Homo sapiens: one gene and its partners. The protein of the gene in region 1 purifies or fractionates together with the protein of each later gene. This does not show direct contact. Each region holds a gene or a part of one and is shown on either strand. Other genes may lie near its edges.

Region 1 (3,500 bases):
GCCTGAGTGACAAAGCAAGACTCCGTCTCAAAAAAAGAAAAAGAACAAGAACTATAGAGCTGGGCGAGGTGGCTCACGCCTGTAATCCCGGCACTTCAGGAGGCAGAGGCAGGTGGATCGCTTGAGCCCAGGAGTTCGAGACCACCCTGGGCAACATGATAAAACCCTGTCTCTACCAACAAAAAATAAAAAATAAAATAAATTAGTTGGGTGTTGTGCACACCTGTAGTCCTAGTTACTCAGGAGGTTGAGGCTTGAGCCCTGGAGGTCGAGGCTGCAGTGAGCTGAGATCCCACCACTGCACTCTCAGTGACACAGTGAGACCCTGTCAAAATAATAATAATAATAATAATAATAATTGCGAAAGGGACTCTGAAGTAAACAAAACAGAGAAATATGATAGAGAATGACTGAAAGTTGGGGAAGTAGATCAGGGAAAAGATATTACAAGCGGAGGGAAAGCAAGTGCAAAGGCCACTGGCAGAAGTGAACAAGGCTTGGGTCCCTAACAGCTTAACAGTGGCTCACACCTGTAATCTCAGCATTTTAAGAGGCCAAGACAGGAGAATGCTTGAGCCCAGGAGTTCAAGGCTAGCCTAGCAAGACCCTGTCTCTGCAGAAAATTTAAAAATTAGCGGGTTGTAGTGGTGTGTGTCTGTGGTCCCAGCTACTTAGGAGGCTGGGGCAGGAGGATCACTTGGGCCCATGAGTTGGAGGCTGCAGTGAGCCATGCATTGCACCACGGCACTCCAGTCTGGGTGACAGAACAAAACCTGTCTCTAAAAAATAAAATAAAGTAAGCTGGACACGTCTGAGGATGGAACAAGGTGAGTGAAGGAGCGTGTCAGGACCTGAGGTAGCCAGGGACCTCAAAGGCCAGCCTTGCTTCACCCACACAGTGGCTTACAGTGGTAAGGCCTCTGTGGCAAGAACAGAGATGTAGGAAACCATCGGCTGACCTGAACCTGCCCCAGACTGCCACGCAGGGGACTTAAGAAGGTACTGGGCTTTGGGGAGAACATAGAAGTGTGAGGGTGGGGGACACTGTGGTGGCTCTGAGGGACTTTGGCACTTCCCTCTCCCTTTGATCTTCGTAGTCTCGAGAGATAGACCGGGCCCGCCGAGCAGACATCAGAGAAGCCAACATGTACTTCCTGATTGAGGCCACCATCGCCCTGTCCGTCTCCTTTATCATCAACCTCTTTGTCATGGCTGTCTTTGGGCAGGCCTTCTACCAGAAAACCAACCAGGCTGCGGTGAGACACACTTTCCCCCGCACCTGAGGCCACACACGTACTCATGTCCTGTAAGCCTTGCCGAGGACCCTAGGCAATGCAGCTGAGCCCTTCTGAGTCTCTGCCCTGATGATCTTCCCTGTTGGCAGATATCATTCATTCAGCAAATAATCATTGAGCATTTGTTATATACCAAGCACATCCTAGACCCTGGGGATACAGCAGTCAATGCTACAAAGACCCAGCTCTCTGCAGCTTAAATAGGGAGGGAGGTGAGCAGACAGGAATGAATACCCAAGGGAAGTACAGAGTGGGAAGAAATAAAGGGGGTGAAGAAGCATAGTTGGGGGTATGGGGGTGGGGTCTGCATTAGCCCAGGTGGTCAGGAAAGGCTTCTTGGAAGAGATGACATTTGTGCTAATACTGGAAAAGGAACTAGCCAGCTCCTCCCTGACTCTCTGGGATCTGGGACCTGTGTCTGTCTCCCCTTCTGAGTGGATCTCAGTCATGAGGCTCTAACAACTGCAGCCAGGGTTGGGGGCTTCCTGAATGCTGAGCCCTGTGGGAGAAGGGGTGGCCAGGCCTCCAAGGACCTGGGCACTGCCACTGCCTTGCTCTGTGACCTTGGGAGGTCACACTCCTCCCTGGGTCTCACTCTGTTCCTTGGCACAAGGAGGGAGATCAACATCAGGACTGCAAACCCTTGTCTTCAAGACCAGGCAGGCGCAGAGTTGTGGGAAGTGGACAGTGTGAAGAGGGCATGGCAGCCAGCTGTCTCTGTGGTGATGCCAGCTCTTACGAACCTAAAAGAAGCTGGAAACTGGGTTCTTATGCCAGGCCTTCTCAATTTTAAATGTTGGCAACAAATCCACATTAAAGAAAAAAAAAACCCGGCCGGGTGCGGTGGCTCACGCCTGTAATCCCAGCACTTTGGGAGGCTGAGGCAGATGGCTCGCTTGAGCCCGGGAGTTCAAGACCAACCTGGGCAACATGACAAGACCCCCATCGCTACAAAACGTAAAAGTAAAACAAAACAAAACCCAACTTATTTTGTTAGCCAAACAAAATATGTCTGGCCAGATTCAGCCTTGGGCCACCAGTTTTGGAACCCTGGTCAGTGCTAGGCAGTCCAGTTTCCCAAGGCTGAGCGTGCTCCTCACATCTTCCTTCTACTGCCCTGGTACCCACAGTTCAACATCTGTGCCAACAGCAGCCTCCACGACTACGCCAAGATCTTCCCCATGAACAACGCCACCGTGGCCGTGGACATTTACCAGGGGGTGAGCGCGGGTGGGTGGGGAGGGCGTGACCCAGAGAGGCTCCCCGCCTCGGGCAGGGCCACCGGTCCTACCACACTCGTCCCTGCAGGGCGTGATCCTGGGCTGCCTGTTCGGCCCCGCGGCCCTCTACATCTGGGCCATAGGTCTCCTGGCGGCTGGGCAGAGCTCCACCATGACGGGCACCTACGCGGGACAGTTCGTGATGGAGGTAGGGCAGGGGGCGGGCCCAGGAGGGCAAGGGGTCCAAGGACAGCAGGCACACTACTGGGGGCTAGAACTCCGAGCCTTGTGGGTCCTCTTTTCTTTTCTTTCTTTTCTTCCTTTTTTTTTGTTTTTGTTTTTGTTGTTGTTGTTGAGACGGAGTCTCGCTCTTGTCGCCCAGGCTGGAGTGCAGTGGCGCGATCTCGGCTCACTGCAACCTCCCCCTCCCAGGTTCAAGCTTCTCCTGCTTCAGCCTCCTCAGTAGCTGGGATTTCAGGCACCTGCCACCAGGCCTGGCTAATTTTTGTACTTTTAGTAGAGACAGGGTTTCGCCATGTTGGCCAGGCTAGTCTTGAACTCTTGACCTCAAGTGATCCGCCTGCCTTGGCCTCCCAAAGTGCTGGAATTACAGGTGTGAACCACCGCACCCGGCCAATTTTTGTATTTTTAGTAGAGACGCAGTTTTGCTGTGTTGGCCAGGCTGGTCTCAAACTCTTGACCTCGTGATCCGCCCGCCTTGGACTCCTGAAGTGCTGGGATTATAGGCGTGAGCCACTGCGTCCGGCCTTTTCTTTTCTTTCTTTCTTTCCTTTTTTTTGAGACGGCGTTTCGCTCTTATTGCCCAGGCTGGAGTGCAATGGCGCGATCTCCGGCTCACCGCAACCTCCACCTCCTGGGTTCAAGCAATTCTCCTGCCTCAGCCTCCTGACCAGCTGGGATTACAGGCCACCACACCCAGCTAATTTTGTATTTTCAGTAAAGACGGGGTTTCTCCATGTTGGTC
Region 2 (3,500 bases), on another chromosome or scaffold:
ACTAAATGTCTAGCATTTACTTTACAAGGCTGTTCAGGATAACTTGTTGACATACTACATACACAAGGCCCCTAAAACTTTAGAATTAAAACAAAAAATATTAAGGACCACACCATCATAATATGAAGCAACAAGAATCAAAAGCAGCTGTCAAGTAAGACCACAAAGCATTTACTATTGCACATATTCACCTCTTAGGAAATGCTGAAATAAAAAAGATATTTGCAACAATTATATAAAACAGTTGCCTGCTGGGTTTTTTTCTTTTAAAATTTAACTGCCAACATATTCCTACCAAACATTCCAACCAGACCAAATACTAATATGCTTACTTCCTACCTTCGGAGAAAATGAAGATGTTTTAAGTGAGATAAATGAGCACACAATTCCGTATCCAGATAAAACTGCTAAAAGTCTCAAGGAAGGGCTAGCAAATTAGAGGTGAAATTTCATTTAGATAGAAATAGCTGAAAGGCAAACCAAAGCTTCCAGAAAAATTCCCAAGAACTTTCCAAACACTAAACACAAACAGCCAGAAATTAATTCTTTACAGGTTTAGTCAGCCTTCTATGCTAATCTGCTTTTTTCTTTAATTTCTTTGGCTTTGAATAGCATTGTTTTTCACTAGCTTTCCATTAACTCACCCTTTAACTCTCTTAGCATAGTTATTTATATTTTGTCCTAGGCTTGAGATTCCTCCTAATTGGAGTGGACTGATAAAATAGGTGTATCTTAACTAATGCTAAAAACCAATGTGTCTCTTTTCTTACAAAATCATGTTTTCTTTTGATTATTTGTTTCTGATTACTCTGTTTCAGTAGCTATACATATAAAACCCAAACAAAACTAAAATAGTTTATGAAATGGTAGAAAGTGATAGTGGCATAGCAGAAATACTCTACAATATGGCAAGACACCTACAATGAGATGAAATCTTAATTCCAAGCAGGTAAAGAATATTGTAACCAGCTGTTGCTCTAATTATATTCTAATTCTGCCAAAGTTAGGCTGAGAAGAAAGAAAAAGACAACGATGATGACAAAAATGTTATTTGGCTCAAATATTCCACCAATGAGTTAAACTATTTTCCTTATTCCACATCTCTTTCTACCACAGTTTGCTAAGGTAAACATAGCACATTGTGAAAGAAGTACCCAGTGAAGGAAAATAAAGTAATAAACATAGCAGACAGTTCTGCTTTGCTTTTTTTGTCAGCTTACAGTAACAGCACTTGTATAGCACCAAGATACCAAGATAAGTTCTTAGGAAAACCCCAACAGGAACCAGCTGATTATTAACTTTACAACCGGTTTCATTTCATCAGGAAAGAGATGCTCTTTCTTGTAATTCATGTGGGTTATAAACACCAAAATAGAAAGCTTAACTCAAGACTGTGCCAGTCTTCACTAACAGTTTTTAAATCAGGAAATGATAGTGATTAAGCTTGACTGTCCTCATTCCACTAACATTTCTTAGATTTAATGTCTTACCAGTTGTCACACAGTCGAGTTTCCTGGTCATCTAGAAATTCAGCCATCTTTAGCTCTTCCTGAAAACCACAAAGGAAGACATGAACTTTCTCTTTCATTTCTGCTTTAAAGATGACATGCAAAAAAACAAATAAAAAACTAGTATACAGAAACTGTCACCCAAACCTGCATGTTAAAGCATTTTATTCAATATCCAGTCCCTTGGGATTTTCTTATTTTAAAATTTTCAATTTAAAATAATTTTATTGGATAAGGGAGTTTTAAAAAATAAAAATAATAAAATAAAATACTTTTACTAGGCTGGGTACAGTGGCTCATGCCTGTAATCTCAGTACTTTGGGAGGCCGAGGCAGGCGGATCACTTGAGCCCAGGAGTTTAAGACCAACCTGGCCACAACATGGGGTAACGTCATGTCTACAAAAAATACAAAAAAAAAAAATTACCCAGGCATGGTGATGTGTGCCTGTAGTCCCAGCTACTCGAGAGGCCGAGGCAGGAGGAATGTGCAAGAGGAATGCTTAAGCCTAGGAGTTTAAGGCTGCAGAGAGCCATGATCATGCCACTGCACTCCAGCCTGGGTGACAGAGTGAGACCCTGTCTCAAAAATAATAATAATAATAACATCCTGGCCAGGCGCAGTGGCTCACACCTGTAATCCCAGGACTTAGGGAGGCCGAGGCAGGCAGATCACAAGGTCAGGAGATCGAGACCATCCTAGCCAACATGGTGAAACCCCCATCTCTACTAAAAATACAAAAATTAGCTGGGTGTGGTGGCGCATGCCTGTAATCCCAGCTACTCGCGAGGCTGAGGCAGGAGAATCGCTTCAACCAGGGAGTCAGAAGTTGCAGTGAGCCAAGATCGTGCCACTGCACTCCACCCTAGCGACAGAGTAAGACTCCGTCTCAAAAATAAATAAATAAATAAAAATAAAATAACATCCCTTACAGACTTCATCCAATTACCCTAAAAGCATCATAACAATAGTAAAATTATCAAATAGAGGAAATTAACACTAATACAATACTAGTAACTAATCTATAGAATTCATTCAAATTTCACCAACAAGTCAGGCACAGGGGCTCATGCCTGTACTCCCAGAACTTTGGGAGGCTGAGCTGAAGAGGATCGCTTGAACCCAGGAGTTTAAGATCAGCCTGGGCAACATGGTGAAACCCTTCTCTACAAACAATTTAAAAATTAGCCAGACGTGGTGGCACACACCTGTGGTCCCAACTACTCAGAAGGCTGAGATGGGAAGATCACTTAAGCCCAGGAGGTCAAAGCTGCAGTGAGCAGTGATTGTACCACTGCACCCTAGCCTGGGTGACAGAGTGAGATCCTGTCTCAAAAAAAAAAAAAAAAAAAAAAAAAATCACCATCCCACCCTTTTTCTGGTTCAGCATTCAATCTAGGATCACACACTGCATTTGGCTATTACTTGTAGTTAATCTCCTTTGATTTGGGAGAGTTCTTCAGTCTTTCCTTCTCTTTCATGACCTTGTTAAGCATACTGGCTTTTTTTTTTTTTTTTTTTTTAAACAGAGTCTCACTCTGCTGTCTAGGCTGGAGTGCAGTGGTGCGATCTCGGCTCACTGCGATCTCGGCTCACTGCAACCTCGACCTCAGCCTCCTGAGTAGCTGGGACCACAGGTGTGCACCACCATGCCCAGCTAATTTTTGTATTTTCAGTAGAGATGGAGTTTCACCATGTTGACCAGGCTGGTCTCAAACTCCTGACCTCATATGATCCACCAGCCAGCCTCAGCCTCCCAAAGTGCTGGGATTACAGGCATGAGTCACCGTGCCCAGCCAGCTAGTTATTTTATATAATATCCTTCAATTTGGGTTTGTCTGATATTTTCTCATGATTAAATTCAGGTTATATATTTTTGGCAAGAACACCATAGAAATCATGTTGTGCTCATCTCAGTGCCTTATATCAGAAGGTACATGATGTCAACAGTCTTATTTTACTATTGATGTAAACCATGATCACATAGTTGATA
Region 3 (2,651 bases), on another chromosome or scaffold:
GAAAGGTAGGTGGTGTCATCTCTATTTTAAAGGTGAGGAAACAAAGGCTTGATAAATTTAGTAAATGAGATTATGTCATTGAGTCACTTGCCCGAGGTCATATAGTCAGTAAATAGGCAGAACTGAGACCTGAGTCACACATACTTGTGTCACCACAACCTATACAACCTATGTTTGTTGTTTTTTTTGTTTTTTTTGTTTTTGGAGAGAGTCTTGTTCCCAGGATGGACTGCAATGGTACGATCTCGGCTCACTGCAACCTCCGCTTCCTGGGTTCAAGTGATTCTCCTGCCTCAGCCTCCTGATTAGTTGGGATTACAGGTGCACACCACCACGCCCAGCTGATTTTTGTATTTTTAGTAGAAACAGGGTTTCATCCATGTTGGCCAGGCTGGTCTTGAATTCCTGACCTCAGGTGATCTACCCGCTTCAGCCTCCCAAAGTGCTGGGATTACAGACGTGAGCCACTACACCCGGCCTGTTTTTAAGTACCAGAGTGCCTGGCACATAGTTGGTGCTTCATAAAGGTATTCTTCACTTCCCCCACTCCCGCTCTCCTGCCCCATACCCCTTTTCCTCTTTCTACAAAAACTGAAAATGGTATCTCTTCATCTTACTGCATATCCTATGTAAATGCAAAGGGACTGTCTTCCAAACTGGGCCTCTTCTGTGCATATTTTGGTACCATCACAGACATCACAATTTGTTGGTGTGTTGGTTTTTTGTTTTTGCTTTAATAGGAAAACTGGGAGAAAACATGATTCTTAAACGAGCTGCATGGGTGAAGGTGCCATCTGGGTTCTACGTTGGCTCTTATGTCCACGGAGCAATGCAGAGTCCCTCACTTCACAAGCTGGTGCTGGGGAAGTATGGGGCCCTGGTCATCTGTGAGACGTCTGAACAGAAAACAAACCTTGAAGACGTTGGCCGCCGCCTTGGGCAGCATGTGGTGGGCATGGCCCCCCTCTCTGTTGGCTCCCTGGACGATGAGCCTGGGGGAGAGGCAGAGACTAAGATGCTGTCCCAGCCGTATTTGCTGGATCCCTCCATTACCTTGGGGCAGTATGTGCAGCCTCAGGGGGTGTCGGTAGTAGACTTTGTGCGGTTTGAATGTGGAGAAGGTGAAGAGGCAGCAGAAACTGAATAGGTTCCAGAGACTTTTGGCCCAGGAGGAATATTTACTTTTAGCTCTGGACATCATTACAAAAAGGAATATTTCCCAAACCTCTTCAGACCGAGAATGCATGGGTAAAATTATTAAATAGTTGTATAATAAAAATAATTTTTTCCTTGTTTGCGTAATACTGGATTTAGCTTTTCTGTGCCTTTCAAAAACAACAGGTGGGCCTTATTGACGTGATAGTGTCGTGGAGAACAGGCATCAACAATACTGCTGCTCCCTTCAACATAGATTTATTATGGTATTTCTGAAATTTCTAACTTATATGTTCTGTCTTACACCTTTTATGACATAGAACTCTTTTGTTCTGTTTTTGCTTTGCGACACTGTGAACCGTGCTTCTGCCTCGGAACCTCCCTAGTTATATTACTTGTGCCACATGGATTTCTTTAGGATTATTGATTCAAACCTAGAGTTGTCTGGAAAATGTGGGTTCTCTTCTTTGTGATTGTCTGTAGTATGCTTTGAAGGTGCTCTGCAGTGGTAGACACACTGGTTCTGGCCTCATTTAATGAAATTAATAACACATGCCCCTATTTCTCTTTTGGATGATGTGTGGGTGGGTGGGTACTGAGGTTTCCTGGCCAGCTGTAAGGCAGATTTTGACATTCTTGTGCCAGAAACAGAAATTAGAGTAGTCCAGTTACCCAGAGAGCTCACTTAACATTGCCTCTTTACTTCCCCAGTACTGAAACATTTCTTCAAGTATAACATAAAATTACCGTAACAAGCAGACCCAGAATACTGAAAATAACTCCATTTGTTCATTATAGGTATCTTTATTTGAAAAGTGAAAAATGCTTTGACACATTACAGATCTGGGTATTTGGATTTTGCCTATGGAGTGCATATATGATTTCAATGATTTACAGGCTAAATAGATTTTAGAAATAATCATCTTAAAATTGAAAACAAAGGTAGGTCCTGGTATAATATTAAACATAAAGTTATTAAACATTTTAAGCATTGTTTTTTGGTTCTCTTTCTTTTGATTTCTCCAGATTTATGCAGTTTTAGTGCTTTCTGCTGAGGCTTTAGCTAGAGGGCCACAAAACCCAAAAACTATATGGTTAACATTTTAGGTATATAACAAGCAAGGAATGCAAGGATGAGAAAAAATGGAGAACATGCCGTGATTTGCAGACTCTATTATATCTAAATTAAGTAGCTGAATGTCAGGCAGAAATTGGTGGATAAATTATTTCCTGATATTGGCACTATCTGCTCTTTTCTGTGGCCTTGCAATAGGTATAGGCCTTCTTGCTTTAGAAAAGCCCCTTTTCTTTCTTCATTTGGAGCTGTTTCCAGCCAGGCAGAGCTGCAAATTGCCCTCTTGTGATGCCAAACACAGACACAAAGTCCTGTTCAGAGAGGTAATTCTAAGAGAGAAAACAAAGTTTCTAGTTAGAAGGAAGACATGACATCATTGCCAACAGAAGTTGAGGAAGTTGGAGCAAGAGGGAGTTCTAGG
Region 4 (3,500 bases), on another chromosome or scaffold:
GCACTTTATGAATTTAACTCCTTTGTGCTATGGTTCTTTGTACTCCATTTTAGAAGAAGCCTGAGAAGATGATGCACAGATAGAGAGGCACCAGGACTTGAGAGGCACCAGGACTTGGGAGGCATGTTGATCCATCTCCAGGAAAGACTGAGAAAAAGAGCGTTGAATATAAGAAAAAATACTTCCTCTGTTCTCAGATCGTATTTGTTTTAAGGCCACACCTTTTTGAAGTTTTCAGTTTGAAACACAACCTGGACTGAAATCATGAGGGAGGTTGTGTAGGAAAGAATCATCAAGGGACTTAGTTGGGAGCTTCTCTACCACAGCTTACTCCTTATGGTATTAACCCCCTTTAAGTGTAAATGTCTTTGGTTTAAAACGTTTGTACCTCATCTGTTACCAGAGTGTTCATACTGGAGAGAAACCCTATGAATTTACTGAATGTGGGGGAACTGTTACTCATATGTTGCATTTCGTCGAACGTGCAAGTCATGCTGAAGAGAAACCCTGTGCTTCTAAGGAGTATTGACAAGCCCTTAGCTAGATGACAATCTCATTGAGAAGCAGAAAATTCATGCTGGAGAGAAACTAGTGAAGGTAGCAATACTTCATTGAATATTAGAAAATTTTTCTAGAGAGAAAGCATTGAATATACTGAGTATGATAACATTTCCTCTCAAACCTTATCCCTTACTCTGCATTTGGGAGATCATACACAGAGAAGCCTTATAAATGTAAGAGATGTGGAAATATCTTCAGCCAAAAGTAAATCCTCACTCATCAAGAAATTTTTACTGGAGAGAAACCTTGTGAATGTGGGAAAGCTTCCATTCAGATGTCACACCTCAGCCAGCAGAGAATTTACAGTGGGGAAAACCCCTTTGCCTGTAAGGTATGTGGAAAAGTCTTCAGCCACAAATCAAACCTCACTGAGCATGAGCATTTTCACACGAGAGAGAAACCTTTTGAATGTAACGAGTGTGGAAAAGCCTTTAGCCAAAAGCAGTATGTCATTAAACATCAGAACACCCATACTGGCGAGAAGCTTTTCGAATGTAATGAATGTGGAAAATCATTTAGCCAGAAGGAAAACCTCCTTACGCACCAGAAAATTCACACTGGAGAAAAACCTTTTGAGTGTAAAGATTGCGGGAAAGCTTTCATTCAGAAGTCAAACCTCATCAGACACCAGAGAACTCACACAGGAGAGAAGCCCTTTGTATGTAAGGAGTGTGGAAAAACCTTCAGTGGCAAATCCAACCTTACTGAGCATGAGAAAATCCATATTGGAGAGAAGCCTTTTAAATGTAGTGAATGTGGAACAGCCTTTGGCCAGAAGAAGTACCTCATAAAACATCAGAACATTCACACTGGAGAGAAACCCTATGAATGTAACGAATGTGGAAAAGCCTTCTCTCAGCGAACATCACTTATTGTACATGTGAGGATTCATTCAGGTGATAAACCTTACGAATGCAATGTTTGTGGAAAAGCCTTCTCTCAGAGCTCATCTCTCACTGTGCATGTGAGAAGCCATACAGGGGAGAAGCCCTATGGTTGTAATGAATGTGGGAAAGCTTTCTCTCAGTTCTCAACCCTTGCTCTGCATTTGAGAATACACACAGGTAAGAAGCCTTATCAGTGCAGTGAATGTGGGAAAGCTTTCAGCCAGAAGTCACACCACATTAGACACCAGAAAATTCATACTCACTAAAAACCCCATGAAAGCCTTGAAAGTGGGAAAGCTTTCATTAGAAATTTGCACCTCATCATGCCCCAGAAATAATCCTTCTGAAGCAAAGCACCACGAATGAGGTTAACTTTAACAAGTACTAAAAACTTAAGGGACACCAGAAAATTTGTACTGAAGAGAAAGACATGCATATGATTAAAACCCTGTGTCCAACAGAGAAACCTGCAGCAGAGATAATGGTGAAAGTTTAGGCACATTTTCACTAAAAGTGGGAACAGAAAATGGAGGCCTGTTTTTTATTGCTACCACCATAGATCTGGAGATCTTCGCCAGTAACAAGAAAAATTAAGTTGTAAATATTGGAAAGGAACAGACAAAAATAGATGACATGGTCATCTACAACTAATATTAAGACTCCTGTGGTATTGATTGAGCAGAGCAGAAGAGATTTCAAAAAAAGACCTATGCATTTATTAGAATTTGGAATATGATACAAGTGGCATCAGGAAATGAGGAAATAATGGAACTATTTTTTTTAAGTGGAGGTAGTTTGTTCTCCAAGGGGGAAAAATAGACCATGAACTATACACAAAAGTGAATCCAGAGATTAAAAACAGAAATATGGAAAAGCTATGTACTAAAATGCATATGACCTTGGGAATAGGGAAACATTCCTTGGAACAATTTGAGAAATACTTAGCGGTTCTACTTATGAGTATGAATGCTCAGGAAATACGCACTAGGATATTTACTGTGGCTTGATTTGTAGTAGCCAAAAATTAGAAACAACTGAGAAAGCCCATCACGAACAATATGGGAAATTCTTATGTAATACTATATATCTGTAAAATGCAACAAATGAAATCCACATGTATTAACAGAAAGATCCCAGAATTGTTGAGGGGGGATCAAGTTGCAGAATGATACAGATAGTACAATGACTTTTTTGTAAATTTGAATTAAAAGTTTCCTCATAAAACTCAGTACTATCTATTGGTAATGGATGCATATATGTATGTACATGTTTTTGAAACGGATTGGAAGGATACAGACCAAACTCTTGATAGTGGTCACCTGTGAAGAGTGGAGAAGGGAAAATAATGAGTGTGGGAGGTGGGATGGGTATTGGTTAAAGGGGACTTCAGCTTTTTATATAAACATCCACTTCTCTTTCAAAAGACTTCAAGTAAATATAAGAAGATACTGATTGATTCTGGATTGTGGTATAGGGATATCTTGTCTTATTTTTTGTACTTTTCTGTATTTTTAAAATTTCTCAAAATAGGAATGGGAGTGAGGATGGGAATGCTGTATCTGTGGAAGTCATGTTATACTGGATTCATTTCCAATTAAATACTAAACATTTTATAGAAAATATTTCTAAAATTTTATCACGGATGAATGGATGGACTTGCTCTCTATGTAATATGAAATTAATCTATTTTATTAAAATTTAAAAGGACAGCACAATCCAAATCTGTTTTAATTATTTTAACATGGCATACACACTATATCGGGGTCCCCAGCTCCCCCCAGCTGCATGGCAGGAGGTGAGTGGCGGGTGAGCGAGCATTGCCACCTGAGCTCCACCTCCTGCCAGATCAGCGGTGGCATTAGTTCTCATAGGAGCGCGAACCCTATTGGGAACTGTGCATGTGAGGAATCCAGGTTGTGCGCTTCTTATGAGAATGTAACGCCTGATGATCTGAGGTGGAACAGTTTCATCCTGAAAACATCCCATCCCCATTCTTCTACCCCCACAAACCGTCCGTGGAAAAATTGTCTTCCATGAAACAGGTCCCTGGTA
Region 5 (3,174 bases), on another chromosome or scaffold:
ATTAGCTGGGTGTGGTGGCGCGTGCCTGTTGTCCCAGCTACTCGGGAGGCAGAGGCAGGAGAATGGCTTGAACCCGGGAGGCAGAAGTTGCAGTGAGCCAAGATTGCGCCACTGCACTCCAGCCTGGGCAACAAAGCAAGACTCCATAAATAACTAAAAAGGGAGCTGATGAGGAGTTATTTCTGGGAAATGGCAAATGCCCACGGGTGACCCTGATGCCAGCAGCTTCTCTCCCACCAGACCTGTGCTTCCCACACAGCCCCACCTGCTCTTGTCTTTAGACTAAGAGCCTGTCACCGGGCGTTGATCTAGCCGGCTTTTTCCTTTGTGTTATGGGCCTGTTCCTTCACCTCAGTGTATTCTCTGCGTGTGCTCCCTTCTGGGAAAAGCAACGTCCCACGTTTGTGTGATTGAAATGTGAAAGGAGAGCCTCATGTCTAGATTGTGGGCGAGTGATTGAGCCCTGTGACCGCTCGCGCGTGTGACCCACAGACTGTGACTGTGTCCCCTCAGCATTTATTTTCTGGATGGTCACAACGTATTCAATGTGTCCTTGAGACAGCCACCCAGCCCTTAGGGTGGTCCCTGCGTGTCCTGGGGCGGGCGACTTCCTGAGGGTGCAGTGCTGGAAACAGAGACTGCTTCGAGCCTGGCCACCTTCCCTCCTGTGCCGGCTGCTTCTAGGAGATGCTGTGGGACGGTGCCCGGCTTCGCGGTGACTACCATGCCCTAAGGAGCAGAGCCTCCAGGATGCCCCCGGGCTGCGCTGGACGCTAAGACCCCAGCACCTAATCACAGTCAGCAGCTTCCCTCCACTGACAGTGATCTGCATGGTCCATTCCTGGCGGCCTGGGGGCCTCGCTACAGTTCAACCTGGCTGGCTTCCCGCTTCCTCCCCAGGGGAGATTAGTGTCGTGTGTAAACTTGGACAAGTCACTGGGTCCTCTCTCCAGGGAGTGCCTGGAGAAATTCAACCCCCAGCTCAGCTGCAGCCCTTCCTGGGTCAGCTCTCCACCCAGAGACCCCGGAGCTTGCCCGCAGACTGCCCGGCCTGCCCCAGCTCTGGGAAAGTGAACTCCAGAGTATGCAGACATGGAGATGCGCATGCTGATCCTGGGCATGAGGGCTGGGCTGCACTCGTCCATTCTGTGCATACTGCCTTGAATTTTTCATATCCATCATAGAAAAAAGTGATTAAAAATAAAGGATGAGATAAACTTGGAGAGAGAGGATGTAAGATGGGCCCTGCTTGCCCGTCCTGTCCCTGCCTGATGGCGAGACAGCCGCCACCCCTCATCGCCCCTCCTCTGCGGTGGGCGGCTGCAGGTGGGCGAAGCTCAGGAAGACCTGTTCCAGCGAGATCTGGCTCACGGAGTAGTCGTCCACGCCGTACTTTTCCTTGGCTTTCTCCAGAATACCGAAAACCTTTGGGGAGCAGAAAAGTCACTGGTAGGAGAGAACAGGGCCCAGGCTCCTCTGCGGGACCTGGGAGTCCTCTGGCAATAGGGGCTGATGAGGCCCCCACAATCCTACCCCTGCCCAGCGCCACCCCAGAGCCCCAGAGAGGTCAGCCCTGCGACGGCACCGTGCTCCCAGGTAGAGGACGCTGGCTAAGCAGGAGCCAGCGGGGATGGGGCCCAGCCTCCTCCCTGTGCTGTTCCCAGCTCAGATTACAACCTTGAGCCAGTGATGTTCCCTTTCTGAGCCAGTTCTTTTTTTCCCCCATATTTTTTTAGAGAGAGTCTTGCTCTGTAGCCCAGGCTGGAGTGCAGTGGCACAATCATAGCTCACTGCAGTCTCGAACTCCCAGGCTCAAGCGATCCTCCCACCTTAGCCTCCCGAGTGGCTGGGACTACAGGTATGCATGATACCTGGCTAATTTTTAAATTTTTTGTAGAGACGGGGTCTATGTTGCCCAGGCTGGTCTAGAACTCCCAGGCTTAAGCAATCCTCCCTCCTCGGCCTCCCAAAGTGCTGGGATTATGGTGTGAGCCACCATCCCTGACCCCTTTCCTGTTTTACACTGAATTCCTTTTACCACTGATAATTTTGGATATAAAACCCCCAAACCAGCACGTATCAGGCTGAGTGTTAGGGGAGAAATGGAAAGTGACTCCTCTGTGGAAAGAGCCTGCAGTCACCACAGAGGGAGAGACCCCTGGAGGGACCTCCCCCTGCCCCATGAGTGCCCAGTGGGGCCCCAGGGACTGCCTCACCTTCGCCCAGCTGAGGTCACGGCCCGGCAGGTGGTAATGGACCATGCCTTGGTGCTCATCTTCCAGGACGCTGCCTGCACAAAGGAGAGACGGTGTTGCTGTGAGCGCCGGGCTGGAGGATCGGGGAGGGTGCCTGGGTGCTCAGCACTGGAGTCCTCGTCCCAGGGATTGGGGAGATGGGACTTGGCGGGGCGAGGCACAGACGCTCCGCACAGCAGATGGGAGAGGCCTAGGTAGGGGCCCAGGGCCCACCCAGTGGGGGCTGCCGGGGCCGGCACACACCTGGAAAGGTCAGGTCCACGAAGGCCTTGAACTCCTCCAGCGCCTCCTGTTGCCCTTCACTCTGCACCTTGGCCCGCAGGGAGTAGCCGCTGCCGAACTTGCTCTTGAGGTGCTGGGGGCTGCCCAGGCACTTGAACTGCCCCTGCACCATGATGGCCAGCCGGGTGCACAGGGCCTCACACTCCTCCATGCTGTGGAGAGGGCGGGACCTCAGATAGGGCTTGGGGTGCCAAAGGCTTGTGCAGACAGGAAGGCATTGGCTCTCCGATCAGGCTGTTCCTGATACCCATGCTCAGTGTGGCTCACGGGCAGACTCTGCACCAGATGCTGATGGGTCTCCTGGCCACCTGGCTCCTCCATGGCCCACCCGGTGCTGAAACTTCCAGTAACCCACAGACCCAGGCTCTACCTGTGGGAGGTGATGATGATGGCCTTGCCAGACTCTCGGGCTCGTGCCACGGTGTCCCAAAGCAGGCGCCGGGCCACGGGGTCCATGCCAGTGGACGGCTCGTCCAGGAAGATGACAGCAGGCTCTCCGATCAGGGCGATGCCGGTGCTCAGCTTCCGCTTGTTACCACCACTAGAGGCAGGAGGGTGCCAGGTGGGGGAATAAGGCTGAGAGTTAGCATTGGCTCCCATGTCCCAGTGGAGGCCCGTGTCCCAGCAGCGGCCCACA
Region 6 (3,500 bases), on another chromosome or scaffold:
TTCTAAAAGAGTAGACGGAAATTTGTGCCTGTGTGCTATAGTCTTCATGTTTAAAGAGACTCAGTTTGGCTCCAACTAAAGATACCTTGGATTGGGCAATTCACAGAGGATTATAAGAATTTTTTCAATAATTTTAGGTACTTGGTAGAACCCTAAACTCTATAGAACTTCAGAGTTCTGGTTCCTAAATAAGAGGCACAATTGACCGAAGTTTATTGCATTGAAATTGAGGTATTAAGATGGCTTTTTTATGTTCCCTGTTTAGTTTGCCATATCATGAAACTGTGTATGTCAACAGTTTCTAGGTTTAAGATTCACTGGGTTACCATGTAGCCCACGATAATATGTGATTCCTGCTTTCCTCCCCCAACTTTTCTTCCTGTTACTAATCAAATCTAAGTCCTGTGTACATACTCAATGATATTTAGTTAGAATACTCTGACATTTGGCTGGGCGCAGTGGCTCATGCCTGTAATCCCAGCACTTTGGGAGGCTGAGGCGGGCGGATCAGCTGAGATCAGGAGTTGGAGACCAGCCTGGCCAACACGAAATCCCGTCTCTACTAAAAATACAAAAATTAGCTGGGCGCAGTGGCAGGCACCTGTAATCCCAGCTACTCGGGAGGCTGAGGCAGAAGAATCACTTGAACCCAAAAGGCGGATGTTGCAGTGAGCCAAGATCATGCCATTGGACTACCTGGGGGACAAGAGCGAAAATCCATCTCAAAAATAAAAATAAAAAAAAGAAATACTCTGACATTTTTGCAGATGGGCTTTGTGGAGACACACTGCCCCCTTCTCCATTCCCTACCCCCTGCTTTTGTCTTTAGGTTTCATTTAAAATGCCCATCTTTCATATTTTGGTAAGAGAAGACTTTAAGTGGAAATGTAATCTGAGTATTCTGTTTAATAAATGGACTCAGCATGGGCATTTTGAAGCCAACAATCCCATCTGTAGTGTAAGTATTAAACTACAGTGGTATTATTTCAGGAGGAAGCTCATGCAGTTGAAGGACAGCCTTGCTGGGAGCCGAGAACAGCCAGGTGAAATCAATTTAGCACAACTTAAGGCTTCTGGATTGCGTGTCTTGAACCCACTGTCCCTTCAGCGTTCAGGGTCTAAGTCAGTGGTGAGTCCAGAGTCATTCATTGGCCTGGAAGCAGGATGGAATGATGTCAGATGGAGTGCAGAGTTGAGATTGCTTTGTAGCATGCAGGTCTGTACCAGACCTTTTCCAGACCGGTTCCAGACCTGGAATACCCTTTAAGTCATTTTATAATTGTGTGTAGTAACAGGACCTTCAAAGCATGGCACGTATCTTTGTAATTGTGTGTAGTAACAGGACCTTCAAAACATGGCACCTATCTTTATAATTGTGTGTAGTAACAGGACCTTCAAAACATGGCACCTATCTTTATGTTGAGAGCCTCAAACAGAAAAACGCTGGAAATAGTTGGTGGCAAGAGTTGGCTTCGGGCCATGATGCCCCCATTCCTGAGCTGTGTGACCTGGGGCAAGACAACCCCACCCCACCAGAATTGCTTTGAGTCCCGGTGTCATTATTATAAAATGGAAATAATAGCAGCTGCCTATGTTGGTTTTAAGATAAATGAGATATCTGTATATATAACATTGCTGTATATTACATTGTTGAAACATTTAGGTTCCTAATGGTTATTGTTTCTATTGGCTTAAAATTTTTTTACCTATATTCTCAGGATTAAAAATACGACCAAGAGCAAGCCGGGCACAGTGGCTCACACCTGTAATCCTAGCACTTTGGGAGGCAGAGGTGGGTGGATCACTTGAGGTCAGGAGTCTGAGACCAGCCTGGCCAACATGGCAAACCACGTCTCTACTAAAAATACAAAAATTAGCCAGGCATGGTGGTGCACGCCTGTAATCCCTGCTATGTGGGAGGCTGAGGCAGGAAGATCACTTGAACCTGGGAACTGGAGGTTGCAGTGAACCGAGATCACGCCACTGCACTTCAGCCTGGGTGAAACAGTGACACTCCATCTCAAAAAAAAAAAAAAAAAAAAAAAAAAAAAAAGGATTATATGACCAAGGGCATGCCTACATGCCTGCTGATTTTGTGGGTTTTTTCATTTTTGTTTTTTGTTTTTCTCGCTCCGTCACCCAGGCTGGAGTGCTGTGGCTCAATCTCTGCTCGCTGTAACCTCCACCTCCCACATCCACCTCCAGGTTCAAGTGATTCTCCTTCTGCAGCCTCCCAGGTAGCTGGGACTACAGGCATGCACCACCATGCCTGGCTAATTTTTTTGTATTATTAGTAGAGACGGGGTTTCACTATGTTGGCCAGGCTGGTCTTGAACTCCTCGTGATCTGCCCGCCTCGGCCTCCCAAAGTGCTGGGATTACAAACATGAGCCACCACGCCCGGCCATGCCTGCTGATTTTGAAACTGATGCCATCAGTTGCACAGGGCATCCTATGGGGAGGATTGCAAATGACCATTGTAGTAATATTTTTAAGGAAAAAACAATGACCCAAATGGACATGTTATATGTGTCTTGTTTGCTTGCTGGGCTCTGGGAGCACTGGCCTTCGCGCCAAGCGGCCTCCCTTCTCTGCACCCCGTTTATCCTTTTCTTACACAGCCCTTGCCTGTGGAAATGAGATCTCAGCTTTACCATTGCTTCCTCAGAGAAGTCCTGGACACCCCCAGCCTCAGTCAGGGCTGTTTTTTTTTTTTTTTTTAAAACCTACTTGATTCATTCTCAAGGGCTCTGTTTATTGTTATTTGTTCTATGTATGCCTCCTTCATGACAGTTTCCACAGCTGCAGTTTAGTAATTATTTGTTTAAAAGTCTGCCTTCTGACTTGTTCAGTCAATTATGCTTAACCTGCATCTAATCACAAGGAAACATTATTTATTATTTTAAAGTAAAAAAGAGGTTTTTAAGTCTGCCTTCCATAGTAATTTGTAAGCTCAAAGCTCTGGGAAACACATCTGATTTTTTCATGGTTATATTTGAAATAGGTCTGGAAAGGTGAATGTATGTATCTGGTGTTCCAATGAATGAATTAATGAGTGGATGAATGGCTGATGGGCACACTTACCCAGATACAAGGCCCTATCTGCTTGTAAGGTAGCTGGATCTTTCAGACAAATATAAGACTTAACTCTTCATTGTTTTTGAACTTCCTTTTCTCTGTATTTCTTCTTTCACTGGTTTGTATTCTGGAAGTTAATGCCTTGTTTCTGACTTGGTCATGAGGACTGAAATTAAGTTTCTATGGCTTTGTCTTTTCCATAGCTCCTACAGAAGAATGGTCAGCTGTCCACCATCAATGGCGTAGCTGAGCAAGATGAGCTCAGCCTCCAGGAGGGTGACCTAAATGGCCAGAAAGGAGCCCTGAACGGTCAAGGAGCCCTAAACAGCCAGGAGGAAGAAGAAGTCATTGTCACAGAGGGTAAGCCGCCCCTCCAGGAACTGGAAGGCACACAGCACTTGCAACAAACTTTGGACTCAGCAG
Region 7 (3,500 bases), on another chromosome or scaffold:
CCCACATGCTATGGCCAGGCCAACCCCCGCCACTCCACCCCCACCTACGATGTCTGTCACTGTCACATAGGAGGGACGCATGTAGGCGGGACTCCATACGCCATGGCCAGGCCAACCCCCACCACTCCACCCCCACGAACGATGTCTGTCACTGTCACATAGGAGGGACGCACGTAGGCGGGACTCCACACGCCATGGCCAGGCCAACCCCCGCCACTCCACCCCCACCTACGAAGTCTGTCACTGTCACATAGGAGGGACGCACGTAAGTGGGACCCCACATGCTATGGCCAGGCCAACCCCCGCCTACGATGTCTGTCACTGTCACATAGGAGGGACGCATGTAGGCGGGACTCCACACGCCATGGCCAGGCCAACCCCCGCCACTCCACCCCCACCTACGATGTCTGTCACTGTCACATAGGGGGGACGCATGTAGGCGGGACCCCACACGGGAGTTACGCGAACGCCGGACACCAGAGCAGCTTGGGAGCGTGCGCAGCCCATCTTTGACAGCCGAGCAAGGGCGTCACGCAGGGGTGATGCTCCAGAGGCGGCGCCAAGCGCAGGCCCTCCCCGGAGCCAGCTGCCTGGTGGGGGACAGGACTCCCACAGACGCAGGGCCAGGGCTGGGCAGGGCAGCGGGCTGGACAAGGGGACCTGACACCTACCTTCTACAAAGAGAGTGAGTGTATGAGTGACTTGTAAAATTAAAGATGAACTTACTCAAAGACAAGCATTTTGGAGACAACGAAGTATTTTAAAAAGGACCGGGTGCTAGATTAGATGAAGTTCCTGAAAAATGACATTTTGTTAGATGAGATCAGCTTCCTGTAGGGCTTTTTCTTTTTTTCAAGGAGTCCTTACATGTTGGAGAATTTACAGACAAAATGATGTGATGGATATTTTCTCTAAAACGCTGTGGAAAGAGAACCACAGTGGGCAGAAAGGGACCAGCAGTGCCGCGAATCGCTGGCGCAGGAAGAGGGATTCATCACACTGCGTCCACACACTTGAGATTTCCACAGAATTAATTTTCGAAAAGGTTCGAAGGCCAAGGATGTATGCGAGGGAGAAGGCAGGGGCAGCCCTCGAGGGCTGTGGCGGTGCGGGATGGCAACCACCCACTGAGACGCGGGGCAGCCTGGGGCCGGGGTGTGGGCCCCCTGGGCATGCGGTCCTGGCAACGCACTCAAAACCCCCATCATAGTTTCTACCCCGGGACCAAGGCTGCCACAGCCCCGCCCACAGGGAGCTTCTGTTCATGCTCCATCCACAGATCTCAGAAATCACTCAAAAAGGGGCTGAGGTGCTTTACAAAATCGATCCCAAACTTCACCCCGGTCTTTGTATGGGACGACTCAGCTATGCCAGCCTGAGCTGGCAAGCTCTGCCGGCCTTTCTGCATCAAGTGTGCCCACGCATTTCCGTGTGGACTGTGGCTGCGTGGTATCTGTGAGGCCCGCAGCCTGCAAGATGAACAGTATTTCCTCTCTGGCTCTCTGCAGAAAAGGTCTGCTGAGCCCCGGCCAGCGTGGGGCCAGCGTGGGCCTGGGACCTGGGGCCTGACATGCAGACACAGCAAGGAGAGAAGCTGCCGCACCTTATTCCTCAGGTCTGAGGCAGGGAGGCGGCCTCCGTGGAGGGGAGGGAGGCCATGAGGTGTCAGGGGCCACAGTGAGGTCACCATGGGGCCTTCGCAAGCAAACCTGGGCCCCACGTAGCCCACAAATGAGTTTTGCTCAACCCCAATAATGCTTTATTAAACAAACAAAACACATTGCCAATGTCCAAAAAGTGAAGGATTTCACATAAAAACCCAAACTGACAACTTTCCCTGAAAAGTCTGCGTCAGCCTGCGGGTTCCCTGCACTCCTGAGCTTTCCCTGAAAAGTCGGCATCAGCCTGCGGGTTCCCTGCGCTCCTGGGCCACCCCTGGTGTAAGGAGTTTCCTGCCAGGGAGGGCCACAGGCCCGCCTGGAATCATAGCAGAGGGTCCAGGATGTGGAGGCGGGGCTGTGGGGAGAGGAAGGGGGCACCCTCAACAGACGGGGGTGCTGCCCAGGCTGGAGGGGCAAGGACAGAGGAAGTCAGGCAGAGAAGGTGGCCCCCAGGGGTCCCCAAGATCATCCAGCAGAAAGGAAACTTGGAGCCACAACACTAGCCCTCCCTCTACAGCCAGGAGTGCAAGGCCCAGGGCGGGAGGGGAGGCCAGGGTCGGGTGGTCCCAGGGCCCCAAGAGGGGAAAACAGGGAAGGGGGGTTTCCTCCCACCCAGAGGCAAAGGAAGCCAGGGTCAGGTGGGAGGCAGCGGGGTCGGCTGGGAAGGCCTCTGGCTGCTCACCTGGGTTCTCGTGACTGGCCATCTGCTGGTCCTCAGAATCCAGCGGCCCCGGAGACCAGGCTTCTTCCCGCAGCTCCATGTCTGGGTCCCTGTTAGAAGGGGATGAGACAGAAGGACAGAGTTTATGGGGTGCCAGGCTGCACCGAGGGCCCTGCAGGGAGGCAGCCTGCAGACCCCGGCGTGACAGGCACAGCGCCCGGCAGACAAGGCACACAGCACCTACCCCAGGACACCGAGAACTGGCCTGGAGCTAGCCTGGCCGCTCCCCACTGCAGGGGCCAGCCAAGGCCTCACACAGCCGCAGGAAGGACTCAAGGACCCTCAAGGGCTACAACCACCGCCAGTTCCCATCCCAGCCCCACCACTCCCCAGCTGGACCTGGGGCAAGCAACCCCACCTCGCGCCTCCTCGCGCCTCAGCTTCCTCACTGGCAAGATGGAGAACATGTTACTGTCAAGCGTACACAAGACAGTGTACATGTGGTGCTCATGCCAAACAGGGACTGGAGTTCCCACACCCCTGGCAGATACTTACCCATCACAGCAGAAACAGGGCAACAGGCGCCTAAGGGTCTCTGCACACGACACTCCCAACCCGTGCCACACACCGTGAGGGTCTCTGCGCACGACACCACCGACCCGTGCCACGCACCAGGAGGGTCTCTACGCACGACACCACCGACCCGTGCCACGCACCGGGAGGGTCTCTACGCACGACACCGCCGACCCGTGCCACGCACCGGGAGGGTCCCTACGCACGCCGCCGACCCGTGCCACGCACCGGGAGGGTCCCTACGCACGCCGCCGACCCGTGCCACGCACCGGGAGGGTCCCTACGCACGACACCGCCGACCCGTGCCACGCACCGGGAGGGTCCCTACGCACGACACCGCCGACCCGTGCCACGCACCGGGAGGGTCCCTACGCACGACACCGCCGACCCGTGCCACGCACCGGGAGGGTCCCTACGCACGACACCGCCGACCCGTGCCACGCACCGGGAGGGTCCCTACGCACGCCGCCGACCCGTGCCACGCACCGGGAGGGTCCCTACGCACGACACCGCCGACCCGTGCCACGCACCGGGAGGGTCCCTACGCACGACACCGCCGACCCGTGCCACGCACCGGGAGGGTCCCTACGCACGCCGCCGACCCG

What was found.
Region 2: the proteins of SLC11A1 (region 1) and TRAFD1 purify together in Homo sapiens (affinity purification with mass spectrometry; one large-scale study listed by BioGRID and IntAct). This does not show direct contact.
Region 3: the proteins of SLC11A1 (region 1) and TSFM purify together in Homo sapiens (affinity purification with mass spectrometry; one large-scale study listed by BioGRID and IntAct). This does not show direct contact.
Region 4: the proteins of SLC11A1 (region 1) and ZNF146 purify together in Homo sapiens (affinity purification with mass spectrometry; one large-scale study listed by BioGRID and IntAct). This does not show direct contact.
Region 5: the proteins of SLC11A1 (region 1) and ABCA3 purify together in Homo sapiens (affinity purification with mass spectrometry; one large-scale study listed by BioGRID and IntAct). This does not show direct contact.
Region 6: the proteins of SLC11A1 (region 1) and AKAP12 purify together in Homo sapiens (affinity purification with mass spectrometry; one large-scale study listed by BioGRID and IntAct). This does not show direct contact.
Region 7: the proteins of SLC11A1 (region 1) and ZNF787 purify together in Homo sapiens (affinity purification with mass spectrometry; one large-scale study listed by BioGRID and IntAct). This does not show direct contact.

What each region holds. Positions count from the first base shown.
Region 1 is NC_000002.12:218,388,773-218,392,272, forward strand, and holds part of SLC11A1 (natural resistance-associated macrophage protein 1), read left to right. Parts: exon of another isoform or gene 1-220; intron 221-1,097; coding exon 1,098-1,256; intron 1,257-2,425; coding exon 2,426-2,515; intron 2,516-2,603; coding exon 2,604-2,723; intron 2,724-3,342; coding exon of another isoform or gene 3,343-3,459; exon of another isoform or gene 3,460-3,472; intron 3,473-3,500. UniProt on the Homo sapiens protein: Macrophage-specific antiporter that fluxes metal ions in either direction against a proton gradient.
Region 2 is NC_000012.12:112,128,560-112,132,059, reverse strand, and holds part of TRAFD1 (TRAF-type zinc finger domain-containing protein 1), read right to left. Parts: intron 1,550-3,500; 5' UTR 1,538-1,549; coding exon 1,491-1,537; intron 1-1,490. UniProt on the Homo sapiens protein: Negative feedback regulator that controls excessive innate immune responses. Regulates both Toll-like receptor 4 (TLR4) and DDX58/RIG1-like helicases (RLH) pathways.
Region 3 is NC_000012.12:57,795,437-57,798,087, forward strand, and holds the end of TSFM (elongation factor Ts, mitochondrial isoform 2 precursor), read left to right. Parts: intron 1-740; coding exon 741-1,147; 3' UTR 1,148-2,151; downstream 2,152-2,651. Other genes in the region: AVIL (advillin), read right to left, coding at 2,446-2,559. UniProt on the Homo sapiens protein: Associates with the EF-Tu.GDP complex and induces the exchange of GDP to GTP. It remains bound to the aminoacyl-tRNA.EF-Tu.GTP complex up to the GTP hydrolysis stage on the ribosome.
Region 4 is NC_000019.10:36,235,606-36,239,105, forward strand, and holds the end of ZNF146 (zinc finger protein OZF), read left to right. Parts: exon of another isoform or gene 1-53; 5' UTR 54-835; coding exon 836-1,714; 3' UTR 1,715-3,163; downstream 3,164-3,500.
Region 5 is NC_000016.10:2,275,381-2,278,554, forward strand, and holds the end of ABCA3 (phospholipid-transporting ATPase ABCA3), read right to left. Parts: intron 3,079-3,174; coding exon 2,908-3,078; intron 2,690-2,907; coding exon 2,499-2,689; intron 2,291-2,498; coding exon 2,217-2,290; intron 1,426-2,216; coding exon 1,294-1,425; 3' UTR 501-1,293; downstream 1-500. UniProt on the Homo sapiens protein: Catalyzes the ATP-dependent transport of phospholipids such as phosphatidylcholine and phosphoglycerol from the cytoplasm into the lumen side of lamellar bodies, in turn participates in the lamellar bodies biogenesis and homeostasis of pulmonary surfactant.
Region 6 is NC_000006.12:151,302,467-151,305,966, forward strand, and holds part of AKAP12 (A-kinase anchor protein 12), read left to right. Parts: intron 1-3,280; coding exon 3,281-3,437; intron 3,438-3,500. UniProt on the Homo sapiens protein: Anchoring protein that mediates the subcellular compartmentation of protein kinase A (PKA) and protein kinase C (PKC).
Region 7 is NC_000019.10:56,100,796-56,104,295, forward strand, and holds part of ZNF787 (zinc finger protein 787), read right to left. Parts: intron 2,433-3,500; 5' UTR 2,423-2,432; coding exon 2,344-2,422; coding exon of another isoform or gene 2,042-2,343; exon of another isoform or gene 855-2,041; intron 1-854. UniProt on the Homo sapiens protein: May be involved in transcriptional regulation.